Homo sapiens: one gene and its partners. The protein of the gene in region 3 purifies or fractionates together with the protein of the main gene of each other region. This does not show direct contact. Each region holds a gene or a part of one and is shown on either strand. Other genes may lie near its edges. The genes, in order: ECPAS, ATG2B and SLC7A9.

Region 1 (3,656 bases), on a different chromosome or scaffold from region 3:
CTGCCAAATCTTCTCCAATGATGGAAACAATCAACATGGTGAGTGTCTTAAATAATAATGAGAGGGTTTGTTTGCTTACCTGAAAGTGTAATTCTTCAAAGTCTTCAGGCTATGTTAAATGAAGCAGAGACTTATGGGATGAGTCAAGCAGCTGTTGTGACTCCAGTTTTTTCTTAGTATATTTCTCTTTTCTTCTCTGTTACTAAGTGGAATAAATAATTCCCCAAATACCAGAAACAGTTGGTCCAAATTTGTATTACAAGAGACAACAACATATCAAGAGCTCTCTATAAATTTACATCTGTAGTCTTTTGATCTGCCTATTTAGAAAGGTTCAGAGTTGTGCCTGTGCCTAATAGTTATCTTTGGGAGGAACTAGGAAAGTTATAAGCTGTGGAGGTATTTAATGAAGTAGGTAACATAAAGGTATGTGAAGAGATTGGGCAATGTCGATATGTTGTTTTAGTCATAGGAAGGCATTTGCAGTAAAGGGCTGCTTGGCATTCTGAGGTTCTGATTTCTAAACTTCCTGGAGTCTTGGTAAAGTTACTCTGTTGTGCATTCCCTGTAATGGTTAGTTAGCTATGATTGTGTTTACTGGAAATTAGTTTGCTAAGCAGATCTGTACCTTTAGCAGGACTCTGAAGGTATAGATCCAACCCCTAAAAAAACTGAAGTGTACAAAAAACTATGTTAAACTGGTGAAGAGAAGTAGCTATTTTTTAGTGCCTGCTGGGGGAGTATTACCAAAATTTGGTCTAAGAATGTTATGTCTTAGTTGGATTATTGGGGGGAAATAAAAATTTAAAGAAATAGGAATAGTTAGTGAATACCATTTAGTTATATTCATTAGTAATAGAAAACATGTTAATTGCATTTTCAAAAATAAAGGCCAGCAATTTATAGGAAAAGTCATCTAAGAAGTTGACTCATTAGAGGGGGTTTGGTAGGGTAGGCCCACTGTAGAAGATCAATATTTAGTTTAGGTTTTTTATACTAAACATGGATTGATAAAGAGGAAGTAGGCCCAGAAAGATTCTTCATTCTTGAGTAATCATTATTTTTCTTTTTTAGCAAATTGATGTTTTTCATTTTTTTGTTTGTTTTTAGTGTTGAATCACTGATGAATAATTTTTCTGTTTGTAGTACAATAGTGGTTTTAATATTGAAATCAGAGCAGAAGCAAGCAGTGATTTTTCAACTTCATGTCAAATCCAGTTGGTACACGTTTGACAAGGGCAGTTTTTAATTGAAGATGTGGTCCTGACTTATTTGCCAAGGCTTACCTTTATATTTGTCCTTTTTCAAAAGTGCCTGCAATACCTTGATGTGTCAGTGCTGGGCGAGCTAGTTCCTAGGTTGTGTGAACTGATCAGAAGTGGTGTAGGTCTTGGAACTAAGGTAAGTGTACTTTCCACAAGAGGAAATGTGCATCTTCATTAGTTCTGGCCATAAGGATATAACAGCCATCATGTTTGAAATTCATGTTTTACCACAAAATCTAATATTATACACTAACCATTTTATTTCTGTGGTTGCACTGATAACTGAAAACATGTAACTGGTTCAAGAAATAAAACATCTAACTGTTCCAGTAAGTATTAACTTATTTAGTGGAATCATTTCTGTTCTCTGGTTGCCGTGTACATACCCTCTGGGTTGTCATTCATTAGCAGTTCATGGAAATGCACATCCAGTTATTAGGGCATGGATTGTTTTAGGTGGCAATTGCATTTTTCACAGAGGGGTCAGCAGTGTTTGAATAGAAAAATGTCCTAGTTTTCAAGATCTTTGAAGGATCAGACACCCCCCTACCACCCTTTTAACAACAAATTAATAACTCACATTTTTTCTTATGACAAAATTAACACTTGCTGGTATTTTAAAATTTTAGCATTTATAGATTAGGAGAAAGTTAAAATAAAAATTGTCCAGAATTTTGCCATACAGAGATAACTGCTGTTAATATTTTGAAGTGTTTCCTTCCAGTCTTTTCTGCACATGTATCTTCTGCAGTGTCCTCTTCTAATGGCCGTATGATACTCCACTGTATGGATGTAACATCATTTATTTTACTCCATCAAGGAACATCTGATTTGTTTTCAGTTTTTGAAAAAAATAGTAAAGCACTGTGATGAGTGTCTTCAGGCACACCTGAAGATATTTGGTTAAATTTCTGGAAATGGAAATGTTAGCACAGTGATGGACAAGATGACATATTTTGCTTTTCCAGAAGATTGTACCAGTTTTCTTTCTTTTTCACAATGTCTGAGATCACCCATCTTTCTCTTGGAGGTTTAAAAAAAATCGCTGCATTACTAGTTTAAGAGTTTGCCTTTTTCTATATTGAGTCCTGGAGGGGGTATTAGGCTTCATGTATTTTATATGTTTAAATTTTTGGCACCTAAGCCAATGGTTTGGTAGGTAGAACATTGTGACCATCAGATTTAGACCTTTGCTTTTGTAACCCTGTAGGGTGGCTGTGCCAGTGTCATTGTGTCATTAACTACTCAGTGTCCTCAGGACCTAACACCTTACTCAGGTGAGTTTGTCAAGGGATGTGTGGTGATATTTTTGCACAGCCCTGTCTTGTGTGACAGAGTTTTAAAAAGGAAAAATACTTATCATTCAGACCTGCTTGTGATGCTGTGTGCCTTTTCTCCCCTCAGTCCCCTGACTCCTTCATTTCTTTGTCTGCAGGAGGTGCAGAGTTTATCAAGTTTAGCAGCTTTTCACTGTTCATAAACATTTGATTATTCCTTAGTGGTATAAGGAGGTAAAAGTATCCTCTTTTCCACAGGACTTACCATTGATAGCTGATTTTACATCAGCATTTTTCTCTTCTTAGATTGGCTTCTAGACTGGACTAGTGTTCTTTATATACCTCGTTCTTATTTTGCATCTTTTTCCACGATATTCTAGTTTAATTTTAACTTTATATCATGTAAAAGGAAGCAAATGGATATATAAATATAACATCCAGAAATCTAAACTACTGTGGAGTAAATCAGATGTTAATTACAGGGTTAGGTTTGTTTGGGTTCTGGGAACAGAGTGGAACATTTGGTCAACCAAGTATCAGATTTTTTTCTCTTTATTTCTGGTAGGTAAACTTATGAGTGCTTTGCTGAGTGGCCTGACAGATCGGAACAGTGTGATTCAGAAATCTTGTGCATTTGCTATGGGCCATTTAGTTCGGGTGAGTTAAATTTCTTGCTTAGTTAAATAAAACTCTTTGACAGTTATAAAGAAATACTTAGGATTGTTTCTTTTTCAGACCTCACGGGATAGCAGCACTGAAAAACTCCTGCAGAAGCTCAATGGGTGGTATATGGAGAAAGAAGGTACCTTTCTTTTTCTATTTTATGTCATTTTAAATTTAGATGTTAACAGCCCAGTAAAACAGTACAAATTAGGTCTTACCCTCCATGATTTTATGTGATTTGCTAGAAACATTTGTTTCTTTTCTTTTCTTTTTTTTTGAGATGGTGTCTGGCTTTGTCGCTGAGGTTGGAGTGCAGTGGTGCTATCTCAGCTCACTGCAACCTCAGCCTCCTGGGCTCAAGCGATTCTTGTGTCTCAGCCTCCTGAGTAGCTGGAACTACAGGCACGTGCCACCACGCCTGGTTAATTTTTGTATTTTTTGTATAGGTGGG
Region 2 (2,480 bases), on a different chromosome or scaffold from region 3:
CCACAAAAGGTGAGGAATGGCCATTGGCTCACATGACTTTGAGGCCAGGGCAGGCCCAGAGCTGAGAGGGGATTAGAGAAGAGCTACCAAGTCTTCACTTGGCTCAGAGACAGCCACGAGGTGCCTGTGGGCTTCCCTTACCCTGTGCTGCCCACCATGTGCTGAGTATTTCCTTCCTAGCACCTGTCTGTCACATGGAGTGGTCACATCTCTTGCTGGGACCCTGGCTGATACTGAATGTGAATGTTACATTGTCAATACTGATACTGAATGTGAATGTTACATACCCTGGCTGATACTGAATGTGAATGTCCCCCTGCCCTGGTGAATGAGGCAGGGCAGTGTAATACACTGGGTCTCAGAACTTGTCTGCACATGAGAACCAGGGGATCTCTCAAAAATGCCAAAGCGCAGCCCACACCAAAGACCAGCTAAATCCCAATCCCTGGGGTGTATTTTTAAAGCTCCCCAGGGGACTAATGTGCAGACAAGTTTGGGAACCATGACACAGTGGCCAAGAGTGTTGTCGAGTGCCAAGCAGAGGAGTCGCCACATAGGAAATAGTCAATCAATGATGAACTTTTATTTCATATATATTTATATTTTAAAAATTATTACAAGTATTGCTAAAATCAAGAAAACGTGAGCTTACATTGAATAAAGGACATCTGTAAGTAGTAATCATGTGATCTTGGGCAAAGAATTTCCCCTCTCCGGGCTTCGATTTCCTCACCTGCAGACAGGACTAGATGACCACTCGGGTTCACTCACTCATTCATTCATTCATTCACTCATTCACCATTTGCTGATCCCTGACTCTGGGCAAGGCACTGTGCTAGGCACCGGGTCCCTAAGTCCCTTGCCCTCCTGAAGGAAGTCAAACAGGGAAACAGACGTGGATCTACAGTATGCGGGGAGTGCCGCAAAGTTTAACAAACAAAAAAAAGGAAAGCATGCTATAGTGGGAAACAGAGAGGAAGGGAGGGTGGCCAGGCTGCCTGAAGTGGAGCCTCCGGGCTGAGACAGCAGGAGCAGCCAGAGATCCCGACAGAGCATCCGAGTTGGGGCGGCCATAGCGCGTTCTTGCCCCAGGCTGTGCATGATTTTCCCCAGGAGAGCTCTTAGCCCAGTGATTTTTAACAGGGGATTTTTGTCATATTTGGCATATTTGGCCATGTCTGGAGACGTCTTTGGCTGTCACAACTGGGGGAGGGGAGTTTGTTACTGGCATCCAGTGGCCAGAGGCCAGCGGGGGGTGGGAGGGTGGCAACATCCCCTGCATCCTACAATGCACAGGCTGGTCCCAAATGTCAACTGCTGAGGTGGAGAAACCCGACTTTAGCCCCATTCTGAGATTTTGCTTTAATCAGTGTTGACTGTGGCCTGTGGTGCAGCATTTATAGAAAGAAATCTTCCAGGTGGTGCTAACCCCTACTCACGGGCATGCAGAACTGAACCGCTGGGGTGGCTAAGCACAGCCAGAAGAGGGGAGAGGGGCTGGAGACGCCAGGAAGAGATCAAGCACATTTTCTTGCTCAAATATTCTAAGAGCCTTTAATCTCAATCTTCTAGCAAAATTCTGTGGTTTCCCAATTAGTGAAGACTTTTTGCTAAGTTAGGTAACTGCTCCAAGCTTTTCTTAAATGAAGTCCTGGGAAGAGCATGAGGTCTGGAAGTCAAACCATGTGACGGTGAGCAAGTTTCTTGACCTCTCTGAACCTGTCTCCTCATCTGGAAAACAGGGACTCTAGTAACTGCCTCTGAGTGGGGGCTGTGAAATTATAAAAAGACAGTAGGATACTTGGCACACAGTAAGCATCTCACAATTGTCCCCATCCCTTTTTTCAACAAGAGCCATGGGTGAAGTGTGACTTGTCATTTTTTCCCTAATTGTTCAAAGTGGATGTTATATAGTCACATCTGTCACAACAAAATCTTTTAAAGTAAATTGCCCTTAAAAATAAGTATGTCTGGCCAGGCACGGTGGCTCATGCCTGTAATCCCAGCATTTTTGGAGGCTGAGGTCAAGAGTTCGAGACCAGGCTGAGGTTAACCTGGCCAACACGGTGAAACCTCGTCTCTACTAAAAAAACAAAAAATTTGTGGGGCGTGGTGGCAGGTGCCTGTAATCCCAACTACTCAGGAGGCTGAGGCAAGAGAATCGCTTGAACCCAGGAGGTGGAGGCTGCAGTGAGCTAAGATTGCTCCATTGTACTCCAGCCTGGGCAACAAGAGCAAAGCTCCGTCTGAAAAAATAAATAAATAAAATAAAAATAAGTATGTCTTTTAAATATTCCCTTCATAAGTAAAAATACTCCTCCAAATAGTTATCAGTTTCGTGATATCAAACTAGGAGGTGTGTTTGCTGCAAGTCCTTATTGCAGGGATAGGATAACTAATAGAGGGACTAAAATCCAAAGCAGGGAGGGAAGAACTGTTAAAACTCCATACAGCTCAGCAATCAGTAGCAGACAGACCCA
Region 3 (3,656 bases):
GCACTTTGGGAGACCAAGGTGGAGGGATTACATGAGGTCACGAGTTCGAGACCAGCCTGGCCAACGTGGCAAAACCCTGTTTCTACTAAAATACAAAAATTAGCAGGGCGGGGGAGGGGGGTGGTGGGGTAGTGCATGCCTGTAATCCCAGCTACTGGGGAGACTGAGGCAGGAGAATTCCTTGAACCCGGGAGGTGGAGGTTGCATTTAGCTGAGACTGTGCCATTGCACTCCAGCCTGGACGACAGAGTGAGACTCCATCTCAAATAAATAAATAGATAAAAATAAAATTACAAAAATTGGATATGAGGGCGATCTGGCAGGGACATCTGTCACCCCACTGATCGCCAGGGTTGATTCAGGTGATCTGGCTGGCTAGGCCAGTGTCCTCTTCCTCCCTCACTGCTCCACGTGCATCCCTCCCGAAGCTGCGCACTCGGTGGAAAAGGATGACCATCCCCGATAGAGGAGGGCTGGTCTTCGGTCAAGGGTATATGAGTAGCTGCGCTCCCCCGCTAGAACCTCCAGACAAGCTCTCTACTAAAAATACAAAAATTAGCTGGGCATAGTGGCGTGCACCTGTCGTCCTAGCTACTCAGGAGGCTGAGGCAGGAGAATTGCTTGAACCGGGGAGGCAAAGATTGCTGAGATCGTGAGCTGAGATCATGCCACTGCTCTCCAGCCTGGGTGACAGAGTGAGACTCCATCTCAAAAAAAAAAAAAAATAAAAAATATATAAAAGAAAGGAGACTCTCTCCAGGGCTTTGCTGAAAACCATAAATGCAGAAACTGTCCCCACCCTTCCAGTGTTCATCTCGACAGTGAACTCACTGAGCGTGCGGCTGGGAAGCTACGTCCAGAACATCTTCACCGCGGCCAAGCTGGTGATCGTGGCCATCATCATCATCAGCGGGCTGGTGCTCCTGGCCCAAGGTGACCCACGGGAGGGTGGGCCCTGCACGGGCACACACCAAACGCCCTTCCACTGGGAGCAGGAGCAGCCTTGCCCCACGAGCCCATCTCCAAGGAAGCATGGCAGGAACTCGGTGGGAGGGATCCTTAGTTTCAGGGCGTGTTTATTAAGCTGGGGTCACAATCATGCCCATCTTTCCCGTGGAGATACACTCAAGATCTGCCCGGTTGACACCCGCCGTTCACTGTCTGGCTTCATTACAGGAAACACAAAGAATTTTGATAATTCTTTCGAGGGCGCCCAGCTGTCTGTGGGAGCCATCAGCCTGGCGTTTTACAATGGACTCTGGGCCTATGATGGATGGTGAGGTGTCCTGAGATGTCCCGAGTCTGGGGGTGGGTGGGGTTCTCCAGGTGACTTTAACTCCACCTGTCATGGAAAACAATGAGTTCTCCTTTCTGGGGTTTGGTGTGACTCTGACATTCACCCTCACATTTCCTTTTTGTGAAGGATGCGACAACCTCTCCCCTTTATTCCCTGAGACACCTGCTCAGTCAGCCAGAGTGCTCTGTGTAGAACCCTCACTGGGCCAACACAGGCTCAGCCAAATCAGAGGCAGCCAGGGCCCAAGCTCAGGTTTTCTGTTTTGTTTTGTTTTGTTTTTTTAAGACAGGATCTCACTTGGTCACCCAGGCTGGAGTGCAATGGCGTGATCATAGCTCACTGCAGCCTTGAGCTCCTGGGCTCAAGTCAGCTTCCCGCCTCAGCCTCCTGAGTAGCTGGGACTACAGATAGGAGCTGCCATGCCCTGATAATTTTTTATTTTTATGCTTTGTAGAGACAGTCTCTCTGTGTTGCCCAAGCTGCTCTCAAACTCCTACACTCAAGCAATTCTCTCTCCTCGGCCTCCCAAAGTGCTGGGTTTACAGGCGTGAGCCACTGCGCCCAGCCCCAAGCTCTTGATTAAACAAAGAATACTCAATAGCACTTCTATTTAACCTTGAAAATCATTAGGTTTGGGAGCCTCTCTGAATCTATTATGGTTTGGGGGACTGCCCTACAAAAATAAATAATACCATATAAATTTTATATATTTATCGAGTTTAGTGGATGAGATTCTGTTTTTGTCCTTTTTTTTCTTTTTTTTTTGAGACGGAGTCTCACTCTATTACCCAGGCTGGAGTGCTGTGGTGAGATCTCGGCTCACTGCAATTGCTTGAATCCCCCAGGTTCAAGCAATTCTCCTGCCTCAGCCTCCCGACTAGCTGGGATTACAGGCACCTGCCACCATGCAGGGCTAATTTTTGTATTTTTAGTAGAGACGAGGTTTTACCATGTTGGCCAGGCTAGTCTTGAACTCCTGACTTCAAGTGATCTGCCCACCTCGGCTTCTCAAAGTGCTGGGATTACAGACGTGCGCCACTATGCCTGGCCCATTTTTGTCCTTTAAGGAAGAAGCATGGCCATCTGCAACGATGGTCCTTCTCTCCTGCAAAGCATTTATAGATTTAATTCCCTTTTCAGACAAAGAATATTCCATTTTTTCAAAGCACCCTGGGGACTCACTACTCCTGATTATTCTTGAAAATCCGTGTGATTCCCGAGGAGGGCAAAGGCTCAACCAGCTGACAGATGTGTAGGTCTGGGTAGGGCCCCAGGCCCCACCACTAGCAGGGCCATTCACCTGGAAAAAAATTCACCTGGAATTCCTGCAGGAGAATTTTTTTCTCTGGTAGAGAATCTTAAATGAGGCCAACATTTATTATTGTGGGTTTCATTATCGAAAAAGAAAGTCAAGGTGTGTGACGCTTGTTACTTTCCTTTTTCCAGGAATCAACTCAATTACATCACAGAAGAACTTAGAAACCCTTACAGGTAACAGCTGAATCAGTGCAGAGGACAGTAGCCGGGCAGCCTGATTTCTCTTCTCCTGGTGAAGGCTGGAGCTATTTCCCTGGGTATTCCATGATGCCCTTCCCGACAGTGAATTATTTCTTTTTTTTTTTTTTTGAGACAGAGTCTTGCTCTGTTGCCTAGGCTGGAGTGCAGTGGTGCAATCTCAGCTCACTCATTTTTGTATTTTTTTAGTAGAGATGAGATTTTGCCATGTTGGCCAGGCTGGTCTTGAACTCCCAACCTCAAGAGATTCGCCCATCTCGGCCTCCCAAAGTGCTGGGATTACAGGTGTGAGCCACTGCACCCGGCCAGCGAATGGTTTCTTATGAGCTCACTATGCACGCTTAGAGTTTGGTTTGGTTTGGGACAGAGCAGTGGCTCCTAAGGGAGGGAAGAGCTTGGTCTTCCTTTATCTCTGGCTTATTTTGCTTTATAAACAGTTCCATGTGAACTGCTCTGGAGTCTGAGAGAGGCAGCATTCTCATTTGAAAATGTCTTATGTTCCTGCTGGGCCTCTGCTACCTGCGAATCTTCTCCCTGGGAGGGCCTCAGGGAGGGCGTCCATCTTCCGCGGGAGGCTGTGGTCTGAACGTGGGTCTCCGTGTCATTGCCCCTCCCAGAAACCTGCCTTTGGCCATTATCATCGGGATCCCCCTGGTGACGGCGTGCTACATCCTCATGAACGTGTCCTACTTCACCGTGATGACTGCCACCGAACTCCTGCAGTCCCAGGCGGTGGCTGTGGTGAGTGCCCGGGCATCGCTGCTGGCGGGGGCTGTGGCTTGTGGGAAGGGGTAAGGCAGGTGTCAGCACTGGAGGTGAGCTCCCTCCCAGGGAAGGAGGGCGA

The links.
Region 1: the proteins of SLC7A9 (region 3) and ECPAS purify together in Homo sapiens (affinity purification with mass spectrometry; one large-scale study listed by BioGRID and IntAct). This does not show direct contact.
Region 2: the proteins of SLC7A9 (region 3) and ATG2B purify together in Homo sapiens (affinity purification with mass spectrometry; one large-scale study listed by BioGRID and IntAct). This does not show direct contact.

What each region holds. Positions count from the first base shown.
Region 1 is NC_000009.12:111,372,858-111,376,513, reverse strand, and holds part of ECPAS (proteasome adapter and scaffold protein ECM29), read left to right. Parts: coding exon 1-38; intron 39-1,311; coding exon 1,312-1,401; intron 1,402-2,475; coding exon 2,476-2,542; intron 2,543-3,107; coding exon 3,108-3,199; intron 3,200-3,277; coding exon 3,278-3,344; intron 3,345-3,656. UniProt on the Homo sapiens protein: Adapter/scaffolding protein that binds to the 26S proteasome, motor proteins and other compartment specific proteins. May couple the proteasome to different compartments including endosome, endoplasmic reticulum and centrosome.
Region 2 is NC_000014.9:96,278,634-96,281,113, forward strand, and holds the end of ATG2B (autophagy-related protein 2 homolog B), read right to left. Parts: 3' UTR 562-2,480; downstream 1-561. UniProt on the Homo sapiens protein: Lipid transfer protein required for both autophagosome formation and regulation of lipid droplet morphology and dispersion.
Region 3 is NC_000019.10:32,859,738-32,863,393, reverse strand, and holds part of SLC7A9 (B(0,+)-type amino acid transporter 1), read left to right. Parts: intron 1-807; coding exon 808-933; intron 934-1,176; coding exon 1,177-1,276; intron 1,277-2,743; coding exon 2,744-2,788; intron 2,789-3,429; coding exon 3,430-3,553; intron 3,554-3,656. UniProt on the Homo sapiens protein: Associates with SLC3A1 to form a functional transporter complex that mediates the electrogenic exchange between cationic amino acids and neutral amino acids, with a stoichiometry of 1:1.